Regions from separate parts of the Homo sapiens genome. Here region 1 is reported to be linked to region 2. The links are microRNA targets in miRTarBase. Many come from high-throughput screens and were not tested one by one. Region 2 holds a microRNA gene; the other region holds the end of a gene's coding sequence.
Evidence for each region. The annotated mature microRNA hsa-miR-5089-5p reads GUGGGAUUUCUGAGUAGCAUC and lies in region 2 at 1,482-1,502, opposite strand. An mRNA with a match to its seed (bases 2 to 7 or 8) in the 3' UTR can be bound and repressed. Matches are read on the target gene's strand: a 7mer-m8 pairs with bases 2 to 8, a 7mer-A1 pairs with bases 2 to 7 and ends in A, and an 8mer does both.

Region 1 (4,391 bases), not on the chromosome of region 2:
TCTCTCATGAAAGTGTTTGAAATGCTTGTTCCCCGGTGCCGTGAAGAAATAGCACTTGAACATAAATTTAATTTACTCAGCAAGGCCATTTTTACTTCCCGCAGAAAGGGTACATTCGCCAGCAGTTTTGCCACGAGAGTACACCGAACAAAGAGACAGGGTCATTTGTAACCTGATGCGTCCACCCTACTGCTGTGTCCGGTTTCCATTGGCTGGAACGGGACCTCATATTCTGTATTTGTCCTGATTGGGAAGCAACTTAAAACTTTTTAAAAGAGGCGAAGGCAGAAGAGAACAAAGGAAGGAGAAAGTAACTTGTGGAATGGTGAGAAAGGTAAACACTTTTAAATAAGGAAGAGGAACAGGCTATGACCTAATGCTTGCTCCGACCAGTGTAAGCATGCCAGGACAAATATTTAGGCTAAATTGTGGGAGCTAAGAACATAAAGTACATTGATTTCTTTACCACGGCTAGCAGATAATTAGGAATGTTAGCACAGGTCTTTGAATAAATTTTGCTTCGAAGAGAAGTTACCGTTTATTCCAAATTAAATGGGGAGGAAAGTCTTTGGAGAGGAACCTCTACTTTACCTTTTACAAGAGGTAGGAGATGCCTGTTCAAACTGTATTTTCCCATCTGACACGGAAACATTTTGGTGATATCATTAGCACAGTTGGCTGGGGAAAGAATGTGTTTGCTAAGTCAGAGGTAGGGATAAAGTGAAGTTGCATTATGGGTGTATTTTAAGTGCAGCAAACTTAAGTGTATGCTAGGAAAAAAAAATAGCAGCAGCAGTTTTTAAAAAAAAAATTTTTTTTTTTTTAGATGGAATCTCCCTCTGTTGCCTAGGCTAGAGTGCAGTGGCTTGATGTTGGTTCACTGCAATCTCTGCCTCCCAGGTTCAAGCGATTTTCCCAGCTTAGCCTCCCGAGTAGCTGGATTACAGGAGCGTGCCACCACACCCAGCTAATTTTTGTATTTTTAGTAGAGATGGGATTTTACCATGTTGGTCAGGCTGGTCTCCAACTTCTGACCTCAGGTGACCCAGCCGCCTTGGCCTCCCAAAGTGCTGGGTTTACAGGCGTGAGCCACCACGCCCGGCCAGAAGCAGTATTATTGAGTTGGCCTGTTACCCCATGGTTAGGCCATTCTCAGTTCGTAGGTGCTTATCCTGTGGGCTTTTGGTGGGTGCTACAGGAATCTTTTTCATAAAGTACGGCTCCTAACTTCAAGCTACTTCATATGGTGCTCACTGGAAGAATTATCTGCTCTGGTGCCAGGGAAAAAATGGGCTGCACTGGATGTGTTGAGAGTCCACGTGGTGGTCTCTGACAGTGCCTCCCAAAGGGATTTTAATTCTTACTCTATACCTTAGGCCCTAAATACCTGCAATGAGAATTTGCTTTGCTGAGCAGTAGACAAAGACAAATGAGAGAGACTTGTCTTTCTTTGATGCAGGCATGAGGCGAATTCTCAGCCATGACAAGGCTGAAGGCCAGCAGGAACAGGCTCTAGCGAAATGGGTGCTGTGTCCCCTTCCTGCATGTGGCAGAAAGTTGCAAAGGTATGAGAGAGGAGACAAACGGAAACCATTCTCCCTTATCTCCAGCTCCAAATTTCCCCTCCCACTCTTACTGGTTTCTTAGGTGTTGTTCTAGAGCCTTTATTTTCTACAGGGCGTTTGGGCTGGGGAAGGGTCCTGTACACTCGCAACAGGAGGTGTAGAATGAGCCCTGCATTGAATGTGTAAGCATCCAAAGCTGTCACTGAGGTGAGAAGAGCCTTCATTGGCAGCCTCAAAGAGAAAGGTGTGCTTGGATGTATGCACTGGACATGCCACCTAGGCCTACTGGACATGCCGCCTAGGCCTGCTGGACAGACTGCACAACTGAGGCCCTGCAACTGGCAATCTCCCAATGGCTTTCTCACCTCTCAGCATTTTTCCCTATTTGTTTTCTACGTGGACTCCAGAAGAGTTCTAACAAGCCAAGCTATAAAGCATGGCTTTAAAAGAAAAACAACTGTAAGGTAAAATCCAGCTTAAGTGACGTAAATTTACAAGCAAATCAGATTCTGGAACCTCACCTTTACAAATCTTGCAAATCAACGTGCAGGGAATGTGTTTGTTTCTACATCAGAGGCACAACTGGGCATCATACAGCCTAGAAGCTAATAGAGCACATGGACAAGGAACAGAGCCTTTAGCTCTTCCAACCCTCTTATTTTCTCTCTTTTTTTTTTTTTTTTTAGACAGTCTTGCTCTGTTGCTCACGCTGGAGTGCAATGGCGCAATCTTGGCTCACTGCAACCTCGCCTCCCAGATTCAAGCAATTCTCTTGCCTCAGCCTCCCAAGTAGCTGGGATTACAAGCGTGTGCTGCCACGCCTGGCTAATTTTTGTATTTTTAGTAGAGATGGGGTTTCACCATGTTGGTCAGGCTGGTCTCAAACTCCTGACTTCCATGATCCGCCTGCCCCAGCCTCCCAAAGTGCTGGGATTACAGGCGTGAGCCACCATGCCCGGCCCTTGTTTTCTCTTACTGTCTTGAGCTGACATGGGGATAACTGACTTTTAAGTGTCACTGGGCAGCAGCTTCCCAGCAGATGGCAAGTTGCCAAGAAATGCTATTAATGTTTGACTCCATTCTCCAGTTCTCCATAAAAATTGACTTTACTAATTACAAAAAAAATTTTATTATTACAAAACATACAATCTCACAAAGGTACAATTTGAAATACGGGGACACCCTTCTAACTACCACCCAGGTGAAGAAACAGAACTTTGTCAGGCACCCCAGAACCCCTCCAAGTGCCTCATCACAATGACAACTCCTTCCCTCTAGAAGTAGCCATTATTCTTGTATAGTACTGACTGTGTTTCTTTATGGTTTTATCTTATTTTTTAGAGACAGGGTCTTGTTCTGTCACACAAGAACAAGTGGACAGGTGGAGTGCAGTGGTGTTCATAGCTCACTGCAATCTTGAGCTCCTGGGCTCAGGTGATCTTCCTGTCTTAGCCTCCCAAGGTGCTGGGATTATAGGCGTGTGTCATTGCACTTGAACTAGTTTTATTTTTTTTTTGAGATGGGGTCTCGCTCTGTCACCCAGGTGTTGCCCAGGCTTGAGTGCAGTGGCGCGATCTCAGCTCACTGCAACCTCCGCCTCCCAGGTTCACGCAATTCTCCTGCCTCGGCCTCCCGAGTAGCTGGGATTACAGGTGCCCGCCACCATGCCTGGCTAATTTTTTGTATTTTTAGTAGAGACGGGGTTTCACCATGTTGGCCAGGCTGGTCTCAAACTCCTGACCTCAAGTGATCCGCCCGCCTCGGCCTCCCAAAGTGCTGGGATTACAGATGTGAGGCACCGTCCACCGTGCCCAGCCGAGTTTTATTCTTGAATCGTGCATGTCTCTGTTCACTACAGTTTAGTGCACCATTTAAATAAATTTGTTGTCTTTTAAGTTCATCAAAAATATTTCTTTTGAAGCACTATAATAATGCTGGTGATGGAACTCGCCACCATTATTCCCTGGGAGCTTCTGGCAGATTCTGTCAGTTGGAATCTCTAATTCTTTTCTCAGTGGACCTTTTTACTTGACTCCCACAGTTCTTTAAGTAGCTTCTTTTTTTCCAGGGTTTCCTTTGCTCTTTTTTTCCTTTCTTGTTTTTTCTTCGCCGCTTCTCGTTTTTCTTTGTGAACAGGACTGTTTTCACCATTGTAGAAAACATCTACTTTCTCTTGTAGGATTTTCCGAGCTAGCTTTCTGTTCTGATCAACTGATCTTGTCTGATGGCACTGTAAGAGATAATATTTTATAATGTGAAAACCACAGGATGTTAAAAATGGACAGGACCTCAGAAGTCATTAAATTCAACCTGTTCGCTTTTTTATTTACTATTTATTTATTTATTGAGACAGAGTTTCGTTCTTGTCATCCAGGCTAGAGTGCAATGGTGTGATCTTGGCTCACTGCAACCTCCGCCTCCTGGGTCCAAGTGATTCTCCTGCCTCAGCCTCCCAAGTAGCTGGGATTATAGGCGCACGCCACCATACCCAGTTAATTTTTGTATTTTTAGTAGAGATGGGGTTTCACCATGTTGGCCAGGCTGGTCAGGACAACCTGTTCGCTTTATAGAGAGGGACAAACCTGGATGGCAAAGCCCCTTATCAGGAGTCCCCATGAGTCAGTGACAGTGAAGACCAGCCCCTTTCCTGCCTCTGCCCTGTGTCCCATACCCTTGCTGTATTATGTGGCTTTCAGTGTGATTGTTTTAATCATTAGGAGTGCTATTTTGTTTAGAAGCAACAGTGGCCTTCAAATAACTTAAAGTCGCAAAATAATTATGAAAGTATCAACTGATGTATCTAGCTTGTGGCCAGTTAACAACCAC
Region 2 (4,391 bases):
TCTCCTGACCTTGTGATCCACCCGCCTCGGCCTCCCAAAGTGCTGGGATTACAGGCGTGAGCCACCGCGCCCGGCGGAGATGACCTCCTTTGCTCCCCACAACACATTGGTAAGAGGAGCAGATGCTCCTCTAATTTCCTGTTTATAGGAGAGGAAATTAAGATTCTGTTTACTGATCTTGTCCAAGCTCATTCATTCCACCGGTGTCTATTGTAAATCTCCTGTGGGCTAGGCACTGTGCCAGGCACTGGGTGAGCAACGGATGGCAGACCTAGCGTCTGGCCCTGGCCAGCGCCCCAGAAACCCTGGCACTTGCTTTGCTCCCCAGGTAGCTGGTTCCATGCGTCTCAGGGCCTAGGTCAAATCCCCCACATCCTGTCCTCTGAGTCGGGGATAGTACTTCTGGGGTCAGCTGTGCCTTCACCAGCAAGATGTCCCCTAGAACGGGGGAAGTAGGGAGGGCTTACATCACCACATCCACTTACTTTCTTACTTACTTGTCTAAGCCAAGTTCACATAGAGGGGTGCACGGCTGTGGCTGCTGGGGGTCGCCCTCCCCAGACCCCAACTCAGTAGTAGATGGAAAGAAGCCTTGAGCTTTGGGGGTGGCTTCAGAGGCAAAGAATGGAGCATGCGAGGTGGCGGGTACAGCAGAAATGGCCCCCATCCAGCATTCCAGTTTGGGGGAAAGGTATACGTGTACACATGTGTCGCACGCATGCACACACATTTAATAAAAAGGACTTAAGTGGGATTTCCGAGTAGTATCTCTTGAGTGCAGATTCTTGTCAAGAAAGCAAGATTCTTTCTTGTCAATAAAGATCACAGCAGATACACGGGGTGTCCAGGACAGCAAACCCCAGCTCGGCAGACGGGGCAGGTGTCCCAGCCTCTGAGATGACAGCATTGCGGGGTGTTCTGAGGCAGCGCCTGCTCACCCTTGCAGTCATAGTTCTATTACTTAGACTTGAGATCCCATGATAAGTGCACTCCAGTCCATGGATAAGGAGAGTTTAACCCATGGGGAACGCTAGATCTCAACAATTTTCAACAACGAAGCAACAGAGGCTAGGTGTGGTGGCTCATCCCTGTAATCCCAGTAATTTGGGAGGCTAAGGTGGGCGAATCACTTGAGCCCACGAGTTCGAGACCAGCCTGGGCAACACAGTGGGACCCCCATCTATATGGCAAAAAAGAAAAAAGAAAAGAAAAAGAAAAAAGCAGCAGCAGAGTGAGAGTGAGCAAGCCAGCTGTCATATGAGATTGTCATCTGGTTGTGTGGTTAGATAATGGGCTCAAGGTCACACTCAGCTAATGAGTGGCAGAGGCAGTGGGTACAGCAGAAATGGCCCTCATCCGGCATTCCAGTTTTGGGGGCAAGGTATACGTGTACACATGTGGGTTGCACACATGCACACACATTTAATTAAAAGGACTTCAGTGGGATTTCCGAGTAGCATCCCTTGAGTGCAGATTCCAAGGATGCTACTCAGAAATCCCACTGAAGTCCTTTTTATTTGACACTTTCCCACCTGGCTAAGTTAGAGGGAATACTACAAGAAGTTTTACACTCCTAATAAACTTGACGTACAAGACCTAGGTTTGCATGTCAGTGCCAGTATTTTTTAGGTGTGTCTTATGTCGCTCTCCTAATGCTGGGTGCTAAGGAAGTTGCAGAGGTGAAGGCAACTCAGGCTCTGCCCTCGAGATGCTAATAATATGACTGCAGAGACGCTCGTCCACACGGGAGATTGAGTGCTGCCATCCTCTGTGCCTCAATAATTTCTTTTTGGGTAGCCAGCGTCAGCCAGTGGGGTACAGGGTTTGGGGCTACAGAGCAGCTGTAAACCCGGGTTTCTCCTGGGGCTCACTTTGCAGGGGAGTGCCTGGGCAGAAAGCCCGGGACATGGAACCTGTATGTTGACAGCAATGCAGCCAGATGGGCAGAGGCCAACATCCGTCACCAACGGTCACATTGTGCAGACTGCTGGTTCCCTGCTGAGCTGGGGAGGCTGACAAACCTGAATTCCACCTTGTGCTCCAAAGCTGAGGTTCAGCAAGGGCTCGGGGTGCCCAGTGTGCAACCCTTTGCTGGGAATCCTTTCCTGTCCCAGGTTCTCCTTCCCTCTTGGCCAAGAGCCAGAGCTCCTTGCAGGGACTTCTTCCCACTATAGCTGGACTAGAAATGAAGAAGGGAGAGGAGGAGGAGGAGAAAGAAGGGGGAAGAGGAAGCATATGAAAGGACAGCAGGGAGAAGATGGGATGGAAGGAGAAGGGAAGAGAGGAGGAAGAAGCGGGTGGCGGGAGAAGCAAAGCAGGAAGCCAGGGTCTCGCCTCCTGCCCCAGCCCAGCCCCAGGGTTCTGTCAGCACACAGCCTGGGCCCAGCACAGTGCCCACCACAGCAGGCTGTCCCCTCCGGGTGTCTCTATAGAACATAAAGCGGGGAAGCAGCAACACTGAGGGTGATTATGGTTGAGACAGTTCCCTGTCTTGGGAAGGTCCCCCCTCTCCCCCACGTGCCCTGTGCCCTCTGCCTACCCCACCAGCCCCAGGCCTGGCTGTAAGTGTGACCCTTCCTCAGAGCCAGGCCCTGTGCCCTGCCTTTCTCTCTACTTCCTAAAGCTTCCCCCTTGCCGGGGAGGGAGAGGTGCCCAACAGGTGTGGCCCAGAACACAGAAGAAAAACATGCACACAGAACAAACACATGTTAGATGGGTGAGTGGGGGCCTGGTGAGGTGTGCACAGAACCACAGAGCTTGAGGCGTGAGAGACAAGTCTTTGATACAGGCAGGTCGGGGTGCAGGACTTCCCTCCACACTTTCCAGTCATCAGAGAAAGTCGCTTCACCTTCCAAGGCCTGTTTCTTCATCTGTAAAGTGAGGTACTCTAGCTGAGCTCTCTAGGTGGTTGGAAAGTTTAAGTGAGAAAGTGCATGAAAAGCTCCTACATGTACATACATGTATTCATGGAGCCATGCAGCTTTGCCAGGATCTGTGTGGGGTTCAAGGTCAGCAAAGGATATAGTTAGGCCAGGCTAGGGTGGGGCACTGGGTCACAGAGCCCCTAACCCAGCACTGGAGGAGAGCCAAGCCATGCCAGGACCTTGACTATCAGCTCAGAAGAGACTGCAGAAGCCATGGAGTGTGTCCTTATTATATTTTTCCTTTTTAATTAATTAATTAATTAATTTTGAGAAGGAGTCTCGCTCTGTTGCCCAGGCTGGAGTGCAGTAGTGCGATCTCAGCTCACTGCAACCTCTGCCTCCCAAGTTCAAGTGATTCTCCTCCCTCAGCCTCCCAAGTAGCTGAGATTACAGGCACCCACCACCATGCCTGGCTCATTTTTATATGTTAGTAGAGATGGGTTTTCACCATGTCGGCCACGCTGGTCTCAAACTCCTGACCTCAAATGATCCACTGTAAGTGCTGGGATTACAGGCATGAGCCACCGCACCGGCCTATGTTTTAAAGCGATGATACAAGTAATTAACATTTATAGCAACAAAAAAAAGAAAAATGTTGGCAAACAGTAGCCACATTCCTGCAACCTAGAAGGAATCACTATTAATCCTTTGGCATGCAGCCTTTCATATTTTGAGGGATCGATAGAATTAGGTTTGAGATTTTCTCCAGAAAATGTTATTCTAGCATATGCACCACTTTGAACGTATACCGTGATACTGTTTTTCACTTATCAGTGTATGATGACAAAGGTTCATGTCAGTAACTAATATCCACATAAGCCATCCTTCTCAGGCTTGTACCTGGTTCTCTTTTATGCAAACATCACTGATCCCCTATTATGGGGCATAATGCTGTTTCCGGGTCTCTGAGCCCCCGTCCACGTGAGTGGAGCGGCTCCAGTGCACACCCCTGCCTCGCAGACAGGCTTTGATGCAAAAGCTCAGCTGACGACTGATTGTGGCTGGAGTCCTCATGTTGCAGCGTCTCTCCTCTGCTGTCTTGAGTTTTTTTTTTTTTTTTTTTTTTTTTGAGATGGAGTCTGTGTCGCCTGGGCTAGAGTGCTGTGGCTTGATCTCGGCTTGCTGCAACCTGTGCCTCCCAGGTTCAAGCAATTCTCCTACTTCAGCTCACAAGTAGCTGGGATAACAGGTGTCCACCACCACTCCCAGCTAATTTTTGCATTTTTAGTAGAGACAGGGTTTCACCATTGTGGCCAGGCTGGTCTTGAACTCCTGACCTCAGGTGATCCACCCACCTCGGCCTCCCAAAGTGCTGGGATTACAGGCGTGAGCCACCGCGGCTGGTCTTTCTTGAGATCTTTTTGCAGGAAGCATCTTAATGCTTTAGGATGGAAGCTGTACCTGTTTTGAGATGATGGGGGAGATGAGGCAGGACAGCCGTGGGATGGAACCACATTTACTGATCTC

Region 1: the mRNA of MTRFR is a reported target of hsa-miR-5089-5p. Seed matches in the 3' UTR shown: 7mer-m8 at 3,343-3,349, 7mer-m8 at 3,207-3,213 and 7mer-m8 at 3,031-3,037.

The regions. Positions count from the first base shown.
Region 1 is chr12:123,256,217-123,260,607 of GRCh38, reverse strand. MTRFR (mitochondrial translation release factor in rescue) reads right to left here. Exons shown (of 3, transcript NM_152269.5): 3 at 2,648-3,795. The coding sequence ends at 3,577. Among named protein-coding and RNA genes, the nearest start is that of CDK2AP1, 13 kb to the left of the region's middle.
Region 2 is chr17:46,970,138-46,974,528 of GRCh38, reverse strand. MIR5089 (microRNA 5089) reads right to left here and starts at 1,512; the gene lies at 1,429-1,512. It also overlaps a transcript of LRRC37A2 not described here and a transcript of GOSR2 not described here.